2 linked regions of the Homo sapiens genome follow. The protein of the gene in region 2 purifies or fractionates together with the protein of the main gene of each other region. This does not show direct contact. Each region holds a gene or a part of one and is shown on either strand. Other genes may lie near its edges.

The links. Proteins that work in one complex are often made in the same cells at the same time.
Region 1: the proteins of DDX42 (region 2) and EPB41L2 purify together in Homo sapiens (affinity purification with mass spectrometry, with the first as the bait; one large-scale study listed by BioGRID). This does not show direct contact.

Annotation. Positions count from the first base shown.
Region 1 is NC_000006.12:130,867,605-130,871,704, reverse strand, and holds part of EPB41L2 (band 4.1-like protein 2), read left to right. Parts: intron 1-1,323; coding exon of another isoform or gene 1,324-1,377; intron 1,378-1,578; coding exon 1,579-2,142; intron 2,143-4,100. UniProt on the Homo sapiens protein: Required for dynein-dynactin complex and NUMA1 recruitment at the mitotic cell cortex during anaphase.
Region 2 is NC_000017.11:63,807,931-63,813,353, reverse strand, and holds part of DDX42 (ATP-dependent RNA helicase DDX42), read right to left. Parts: intron 4,535-5,423; coding exon 4,406-4,534; intron 3,795-4,405; coding exon 3,695-3,794; intron 2,842-3,694; coding exon 2,794-2,841; intron 2,279-2,793; coding exon 2,181-2,278; intron 1,423-2,180; coding exon 1,146-1,422; intron 127-1,145; coding exon 1-126. UniProt on the Homo sapiens protein: ATP-dependent RNA helicase that binds to partially double-stranded RNAs (dsRNAs) in order to unwind RNA secondary structures. Unwinding is promoted in the presence of single-strand binding proteins.

The DNA.
Region 1 (4,100 bases), on a different chromosome or scaffold from region 2:
GAAAGATAGCTGTCTTCTGTTAGTAATGTGATTTACATGGTATTAATTTGGGTCAATGAAACCATGCCCTTACCATGTGTTTAAGAATAATAGGGCAGGTCCAAGAGAGTTTGTGAGTAGACGTTGACAGTGCTGCAGAGACGTGTGTGTGTGATGTTAGGATCTTCAGCTCATGGTTGTCCAAGTGTCTGGGAGAGATGAACTCAGCCCTGCTGTCTATTAGAGGCTCCAGTCCAGTTAGTACCTTGGCAGCTTCACAACAATATCCAGAGGGCTCAGTGGTGTGGTGCCCTTCTCCATCCAGAATGGAGTCACTTTCGTGAATAAATAGGGCTCCTGGCTCTAGCTGAATTATTTTTAAGTTAGATCATAGGCAGTAGTACCACCTAGAAGTCAAAAAGTTGGCCATGCTTGAGTTATATCATTGTAAAGCAGACTTTTTGTAAGTGTGAGAAAAATGTGAAGCTTTAAAAACCCCTCTGTACAAAAAGGTTTCCACCCTAGTTAATAATATCATAACATAGTAATTTGTTCCTAATGTATTAAGTCAACAGATATTTATTGAACATTTAGGTGCTATATTACTCAACTGGAGTAAATTACTTTACTCCCAAGAAGTAGATGTCTGAAGGGGATAGGAGTGAACATGTCAAATAATAAACTTGACTGAGTTTAGATTTCAAAGATGCTAGTAGAGGAGCTAAATTGTAAAAGGAAACACTTGGAGTCACCATTGACACCCACCCTATTGTATAATATAGCCTTTGCCAACCTATGATACGAATTGGAAAGTTAATAACCATTTCTGGAATGAACATTTTCATGTTAATAGCCTTCTGAGGCTAACTATAATTTTGCCAATTAAAACTTTTTTTTTTTTTTTAAAGAAAACCAGCAAAAAATAAAAGTGCCATCTCCTTGGTGCTGTGTTCATTTAAGAATCAGCGTTCCAGGCTAGACTTTATAGTCTGATTAAAACCAAAACTGTTACTAGGTTTTAAAAGTTAAATTTTTTTCTTTAAAATGATGAGTCAGCTTTGGTATAATTCAATTTTTGTAAACTGTTTTAACTACATAGGTAGAGCTTATAGGTATATCTATAATAAAAGCATTTTACTTCTTTGGGAGGATGCTGGCTGTTTTTGTGTCTTTTTGTAAGCTTTTTGGCATTTGTCTTGATTGTCCTCTATGTGACCTTGAGCAGAGGTTTCTGTAGATGTTGATTCTTGCTGTTTTGTCTTTGCAGTGTCAGATGTTTGTTTCAGTGGTTGTTGAGGTAAAACTGTATTGATTTTGTGTCCTCGGTTGCTTTTTGTTCTGCAGACACGTGCTCCCGAGTCAGAAGGGCCTTGCACTGGAGCCAGGGATGCTGTTAAGGTTCTCCCCTTTTTCCATGTTAACACCATTGCCTCACGTTTCTCATTGCCCTCACGTTTGCCCCGCTTCCCTTTCAGTCAGCCATCATAATCATCTTTGTTTTTCTCCATGACATGAATCTGCCATCGGTTAATTTGGGTTTCCGTTGTTTTTATTTATTCATATATTTTTGTTTTCCCTCATCCATCTTTTTTTGTACAGAGTTCACATGAGACTCTGAATATAGTGGAGGAGAAGAAGCGGGCAGAGGTTGGGAAAGACGAAAGAGTAATCACAGAAGAAATGAATGGTAAAGAGATATCACCTGGGAGTGGTCCTGGGGAGATTCGTAAGGTGGAGCCTGTGACACAAAAAGACTCCACCTCCCTGTCTTCTGAGAGCAGCAGCAGCAGCAGTGAGAGTGAGGAGGAAGACGTGGGAGAGTACCGTCCCCACCACCGAGTGACCGAGGGCACCATCAGGGAGGAACAGGAGTATGAAGAAGAGGTGGAGGAAGAACCCCGCCCGGCAGCCAAGGTAGTAGAGAGGGAGGAAGCAGTGCCCGAAGCCAGCCCAGTCACACAAGCAGGTGCCAGTGTAATCACAGTAGAAACAGTGATCCAGGAAAATGTAGGTGCCCAAAAGATACCCGGAGAGAAGAGTGTACACGAAGGCGCTCTTAAGCAAGACATGGGAGAAGAAGCAGAGGAAGAGCCACAGAAAGTTAACGGAGAGGTGTCCCATGTTGACATTGATGTTTTGCCACAAATTATTTGTTGTTCAGAGGTAAATGGGAGTCCCAGGTGGGAGCCAAACTCTAGAGCTGCTTCTCAGATGGGGAACTCCTGCCTTTCTTCTCCTGTCCTCCCAGTTCTTCAGCTTTTTTCAACAAGAATCTGATTTTTCTCTCTCATGGGAGGAAGGGGGAAGCACTGCTTTGTGGATTTTCTGCCCGCCCAGTTCATGGGTTCCAGCTTCTCTGCGGCCACTGGACACCTGTAGGGTAAACTTTCCTAGAAGCACCACATCAATTTTTCCTTCCCTTTTCACATTTAAATTTTTCTTTGCATGTTTTGGGTGTTTTCAACTGTTTTGTCTTCAGTTGCACTGCTTCCTCACACTAAATGCCTTTTTTTCCCCTTTTGGTTTAATTAGAAAAATGTATATGTAATGTTGAAAAAAAAAATGGTCACTGCTGAGTGTGTGTGCCCCTGATGTCATGATTGGGTTTGACTTCTTGGCTCATTCTTCAGCTTCAGAGTTTTAGAAATGACAGCAGTCTCTGATTACCGTGGTTCTCTGAATGCAGTATCCAGCAGTGATGAGAATGTTATTTCTTGAATGCCACTGTGATTTCTGTTTTGGGATTGCAGGGGTTGTATGGTTTTGTTAAGAGCCTTTCTTTTCTTCCAGGCAGCCAGAGGCTAGGCTATTTGATAGGAGGATATCCTCGCTTCTCATTCTATCCTGATGTCAATTCTGGAGTATTTGCCAGATGATTATATGTTTTGTGGATTATCTATACATTGGACATGAATCTTTTTCTTTTCAAAGAAGAGAACTTTTTGGTCACTAAGTGCAGTGTCTCTCATTTGGGAGTTAGGCTGAGGGAGGGTTTATTTCCTTGGGAATATTTCTTGATTTTAATATTAAATGCCCACAGTACAGAGATTTATTTTGTTCTCTTCGATGGGATGGAAAATGTTGAAGTGACTTTGTCTTAAAATAATTAAGTGGATTTTAACCATGTTACTTTTAAACTTCTGTTTCACTTTAGAGAAGATTTTTCAAGAGTCTTTGAACACTTTGAACTATTCTGTATTTAACATATCGTTACTCCTCTTTAAATAATTATGCCTGTTGAGAATGTTCTCTCAAAGAAAGTACTGCAGTATTTTGGTAGTAGTATAGTCTGGTGTTGCATTAATATTAAGCATGCATACTCGGCAGACTAAAATGTTAATAAGCCGTTGAATATTTCCTTTAATGTTTTAAATTGTTCAAAGCATTGGTGTAACATTGATGGAGTAATTTTAGATAGAGCATTTTAACTTAGGTAATACAGAAGAAACACTGCAAATTTTAGACAGGTATAACTGAAAACAGTAATACTTGAAGACATCCTTTCTGAAAATGGTGTGTCTGTTAACAATAAGGCAGAAAAGGTATTGTGGGCAGAAGAACAAATCTTAGCCTACCTAGCTGGCATGCCAGTTAAAGGCAGTGAGCCTTCACACAAACTATGTGGTCCTTTAAATTATAATAAAAATAGAGACAAGTCACTTCACATAGTTCATTCTATTTTCTTTTCAATTTATTATTACTTGCCCAAAGCTAAGGAGGGAGGAGGAGAGAGAGAGAGAGAGAGAGAGAGAGTGTGTGTGTGTGTGTGTGTGTGTGTGTGTGTGTGTCACTATACACTAGGCTTGACATAAAAGTAGTTTGGGACCATCTTAATTTAAAGAGTAACATAATTTAGGAAGCCATCATGTCAACTTATTTTTCATATATGTGTATGTACACATACACACATTCATATATATGTACGTATCTATGTGCACATGTATGTATGTGTATATATGATATATTTGAAGGAAAATTTTTCTTTTATTTCTTTTGTTTGTTTTAGGTTGTTTGCTTTTACTCTTTTCTTTTGTGCATGAGTGTGTGTTTGGATATGTTTCTTACTATTATTTGTGAAGGTTCCATTAAACACTTTTACTTTATTACCTCTAGAATTTATT
Region 2 (5,423 bases):
GGGTATAGGCCACACCTTTCTCACCCGCTCTTCCTGTGCGGCCAATCCTATGCGTGTGGGTATCAATGTCTCGTGCCACATCATAGTTAATGACAGTCTTAATTGAAGGAATGTCCAGACCACGGGCTGAAATAAAAAGCAACCAAATTCTTTTATTCTTCATCTGTAGTCAGAAGATCAAAGTAACCAGAAATGCTAGTGCTAATAAGCCACATTTCCTTTATCTAGGCAAAGCGCATGGGTTTGGTGAGCTGAGATACAGGCATGTTAAGTCACCACCACAGATTCTATGATGTTAGGCCTTCTAGTGTAAGGGACTTTTATTTTTTAGAGACGGAGTCTTGCTCTGTTGCCAGACGGGAGTGCAGTGCCATGATCTCGGCTCACTGCAACCTCCGACTCCCTGGTTCAAGCAATTCTCCTGCCTCAGCTTTCCAAGTAGCTGGGATTATAGGCACGCGCCACCACACCCAGCTAATTTTTGTATTTTTAGTAGAGACGGGGTTTCACTATGTTGGCCAGGATGGTCTCGATCTCCTGACCTCAGGTGATCCGCCCGCCTCCACCTCCCAAAATGCTGGGATTACAGGTGTGAGCCACCGTGCCCGACTGGGACTTTTATCTTTTGCATCAGTAATCTGCCATGCCCTCTTCTCTTGCACTGGGAATATATATTTAAAATGTGTCATGAAGCTGAGAAGTTCTCTCCTTTCTAGGAAAAAATATCAGTGTTTAAGGGTAGTTATTAAAACTTGACAGAACAAATCCAGAAATTATATTCCAAAAACTGTTCTCATCCTGAGTTAAGTTGCCCAACTAAGCTGTGTATAGTAGATCAATGTAAGGGTAAGGTATCTACTATATTCAGACATACAATAAGGGCATTCACTGCCTTTTTTCCCAGAGTGACTTCTAGCTGCAGGGATTCTTTGATTAGAGAGAAATACTAAGTGAAAAGTGGTATCTAGAGCTCCAGACTGTGATCCCTGTGCTGAACTGCTGCTTCCTTGGGGGTTTGGGAGGGGATGGCCAGCCAGGCCAACAGTCTTTCCATCAGCCTGCTCAGATATTATAGGTCTTATGTAGTAAGACAGAGTACCCTTATAGCCTAGGAACTTAATGTTGTTGAAAAATTCATACTCTACCTGCAACATCTGTGGCCACCAGGACTGGGATGTCCTTTTTCTTAAAGTCTGAAATGACCTTGTTTCTCTCACTCTGATCCATATCCCCATGGAGCAGCCCAAGATTATGACCCTCCTGTTTAAGGTTATTCGCTAGCTCTTCAGCATTGGCTTTTTTAGTAACAAAGAGGAGGACACTCCCTGAAGAGGTAAATTCTACCAGACGCCGGGTAAGCCAGTTCCATTTACTAGGTCCAGAATGGAGAATCTCCACAATCTGTGTCACATCTTCATTTGCCTGAGAAGGAAGAAATGAAACAGATGATTGTGACATTGGAGCCACAGGGCACCTGAACAAGGACTAGGCATTATATTTCTACCTGCATCGAGAAGACCTTGAACAATCCCAGTTCTCCTTGGGCCTTCAGCAAGTCAAGTGCAGCTCAAAACTCACCTCTCCTTTCCAATCACCTTGCTCTCCACCTGGTGTACATACCTAATTTGTATGCCCCACTACTTTGTAGAGCTTTCCTTAACAATAACCATGGCAAGCAACTGAAGGATTCTCTAAGCAGCCATAACTGAATTCCAAGTCCCAATTCAGAGTAATTTTTCACATAGCGCATATGTACAGGTAAGAAATGAAACCTGATTTTTTCCAGGCCTTCCAGGTCACCCTTTCCCTCCTGCGTAGGCCCCTACCACAATAATTAAAACGTCAGTTCCAACCTAATACGCTGATGCTTCCAGGCACATCTTTTTGTCTCTTTGAAGCCTTTTTAAAACAATTGTAAGTTTTGAGACATTCAATAAAACAAAAAAAACACAAAATGAACAAAATCAACTCATACCCATCACCTAGCTTCAATGATTCCCAACATTTTGCCAGTCTTGTTACGTCTATCCCCACAACTTGCAAAATACCCAATCTCAAGCATGTTGCATCTATAAACATAACATCTTTTTTTTTTATCTCAATAGTGAGAAATTAATTCTGTGTTCCATAATATGAGAAATAAACCCATTAAGGTCCCATCCAGCCCTGCTTAGGGTTACCTCTCCAATATCTCCCTGCACCACTCGAATAGGGTCGATCAGGATGTCTCTGGCCAACTTTTCAATCTTCTTCCGAAAAGTTGCACTAAATAAGAGAGCTAAAAGGTAAGATAAATTCTGTTAGAGAAACAATATGATATCTTTATGCATACCCATTAAGCTTCTTTGGCATTCAGGATTATTCAGTTTTTTTACATAAGCTCACCTGAACTTTAAATTTAGTTTAGAAACTGATTCACTAGGGAAAGATTTGCTCTTATTCTATTTTTATTACATTTTTAGTTAAGACAAGTTGTCAGTATGGTTCAGAAAAAGACTCTTGATTTCAAATCAGCAGATCTGTACTGTACACTGCTTCTACCCACTGATAAAACTGTATAATTTAGGGCAGTTTATTTAATTTCTGATCCTTGGTTTTATCATCTATAAAAAGGAACAAGTTATATCTAGTGCTAAGATCCTGTCCAGCTCAGATAAACTCATTACCTCCCTTATTATGGTTCTCACCAACAGACACAAGATCATTTTTACTTCCATAACTCTGAGTGCTTATAAAATAAATAAGTGCCCTTTTTAGTACAAATTTGGTTTAACAAAGGTGCTTCATACATACTCTGCCTGTCAGGACGAACATGACTTGCTATGGATCGAACTTGGTACTCTGCAAGAAACAGAACAATAAAATTATTATAACCTGAAATACAGTTTGGGAAGCCTGGAAAAAGCCATATTAGTAAAAGTCTTCATAAGAAGTTGTAAGAATTAAGAAAATTAGAAACCCCAGGCCAGGCACAGTGGCTCATGCCTGTAATCCTAGCACTTTCGGAGGCCGAAGCAGGCGGATCACTTGAGGTCAGGAGTTCGCAGCCTGGTCAACACAGCTATCTCTACTAAAAATACCAAAAAAAAAAAAAAAAAAAAATAGCCAGGCTGTGGGGTAGGTGCCTATCACCCCAACTACTCAGGAGGCTGAGGCAGAAGAATCGCTTGAAACTGGAAGGAGGAAGTTGCAGTGAGATCGCACCGCTGCACTGCAGCCTGGGCAACAAAAGCAAAACTCTGTCTCAAGAAAAAAGAAGCTCCTAAACATATCATTCAGCATAAAAGTGAAAAATTTTCCCTCCATCCAACTGGGCTAGGTCTAGCAGTGTTCCAATCAGTAAAGACAGCTACGAGGATAGGAAAGCAAAGGGCCTCGAATGATCTGACATTCATCTACCCAAGAACACAGACCTTAACCTCTATGATCAAAGGCATATGGATAAAAATGAAGACAGAGAAAATATTCCCCTTATATACAAAGGCACTTTGAAATTTCCTCAACCCAATAAAACCTAACATACTTTTCCAGAGAAAACTCCTAAAAATGTTCATCTTAGCTATATTTCTATAGTCTAACCCCATCCAGGAGTATTTTTAGCTTCTCTCATGCTGAAAAAACAGTCTAGAAAGACATGGAAAAAAAACTAGTATCATGAGGATGGGGACAGAAGAAACTGGTATTCAAGGCATACCAAATCCCATGTCAAACATTCGATCTGCTTCATCAAACACAAGGTAAGAGACTCTTTGAAGATTGGTAGCTTTCTTTTTCACATGATCTATCAGTCGACCCTATAAGATCAACAAAATGAACAGTAAGTATAATTAAAGGCATTCACAGGGACTTTCTAAGCAGTTGCACTCCTGGCAAAAGTGCTAATTCTCTAGTCTCAGACTGTAATAGATACTGGTCCAACAGCCACATACCTTATGCACTACTTAGCTCAAAGGAACAGAAATTTTGAAAACTCAATCGGCATCTTCATTTACACTGTGATTTAAATTCTGTGGGAAAGTGGCCAGAAGCAGTTTTTGAGGCATTCTAAAGTGACCTGATTTAAAGCATAATGACAGGTTTCAATGTTTAAACTACACTCTTCTAGGCTATTCTGACCATATGTATCTTTCTGATTCTTGATGAACTTGGCAATCATTTTGTGGGAGAGTATAAGAAAAACTATTTGACATAGAGGGGAATTTGTAGCTACTAGCCTATATGTCACAGAGACTCTCACTGAACTGCTAATTTAGCCACCAATCAAAATTAAAACCACAGCCTGCCGTTCATCAGTATATTTTCAACCCTGCTTTTACCACACTTTAGGGGAAATTCTCTGCAAAACTAATCATGTTTTCCATACCGAGGGAGGCTGAGAAGCCATTTAAACACAAGGCATACTTACTGGGGTACACACAACAATCTCTGCCCCCTCCTGAAGGGCCTTGGCCTGCTCCCACATACTCCCTCCTCCATATACGGCCACTGATCGAAGATTATATGCTTTTCCAAACCGCTTACATTCTGCATGGATCTACAAAGTTGTGAATAATATATTAACAAACTGTGACACTAACAAATACCTGTCACAACCCAAACGAAGTTCTGAAAAACAGAATGTGATGTCATAAAAAATCGAAACCTAGAACATACTTTAAAACCACGATTTTATTCATAAAGGTATAAATGAATGGAATACCATTATTGCATCTCAACAGATTATCTAAAATCTTTTATTCATTTTACCCCCTTCTCTTCCTGATCCTGTCACTGCTTTTCTACCAAGATAAAATGAACTCATCCTACAGAAAAACTGTCAGCTTATAATACAAACAATCCCCATATCACAATAGGCTTTTCCTCTTAAAAAAAGTAGTTCTGGCCGGGCACAGTGGCTCACACCTGTAATCCCAGCACTGTGGGAGGCCAAGGCAAGCAGATCACTTGAGGTCAGGAGTTTGAGACCAGCCTGGCCAACATGGTGAAACCCCGTCTCTACTAAAAATAAAAAAATTAGCCAGGTGTGGTGGCGTGTGCCCGTGATCCCAGCCTCTCGGCTGAGGCAGGAGAATTGCTTGAAACTGGGAGGTGGAGGTTGCAGTGAGCTGAGATCACACCACTGCACTCCAGCCTGGGCAAAAGAGTGAGACTCTGTCTCAAAAAAAGCAAATAAATAAAAATAAATAAAAACAGTAGTTTTTAGGGGAAAATATGTATTTGGTTATATAGAAAATATTTAACACATAATACTTTCCAAAAGTTTCCTGGTAGCACAACACTGTGAATATACTTAATGCCACTGAACTGTACATTAAAAATGGTTAAGATAATCAATTTTGTGTGTATCTTATCACAATTAAAAAAAAAAGTTTCCTGGTCATTCTACCTCACTTGACTGGCTGGTCCCTTGCTAGTCCACATAT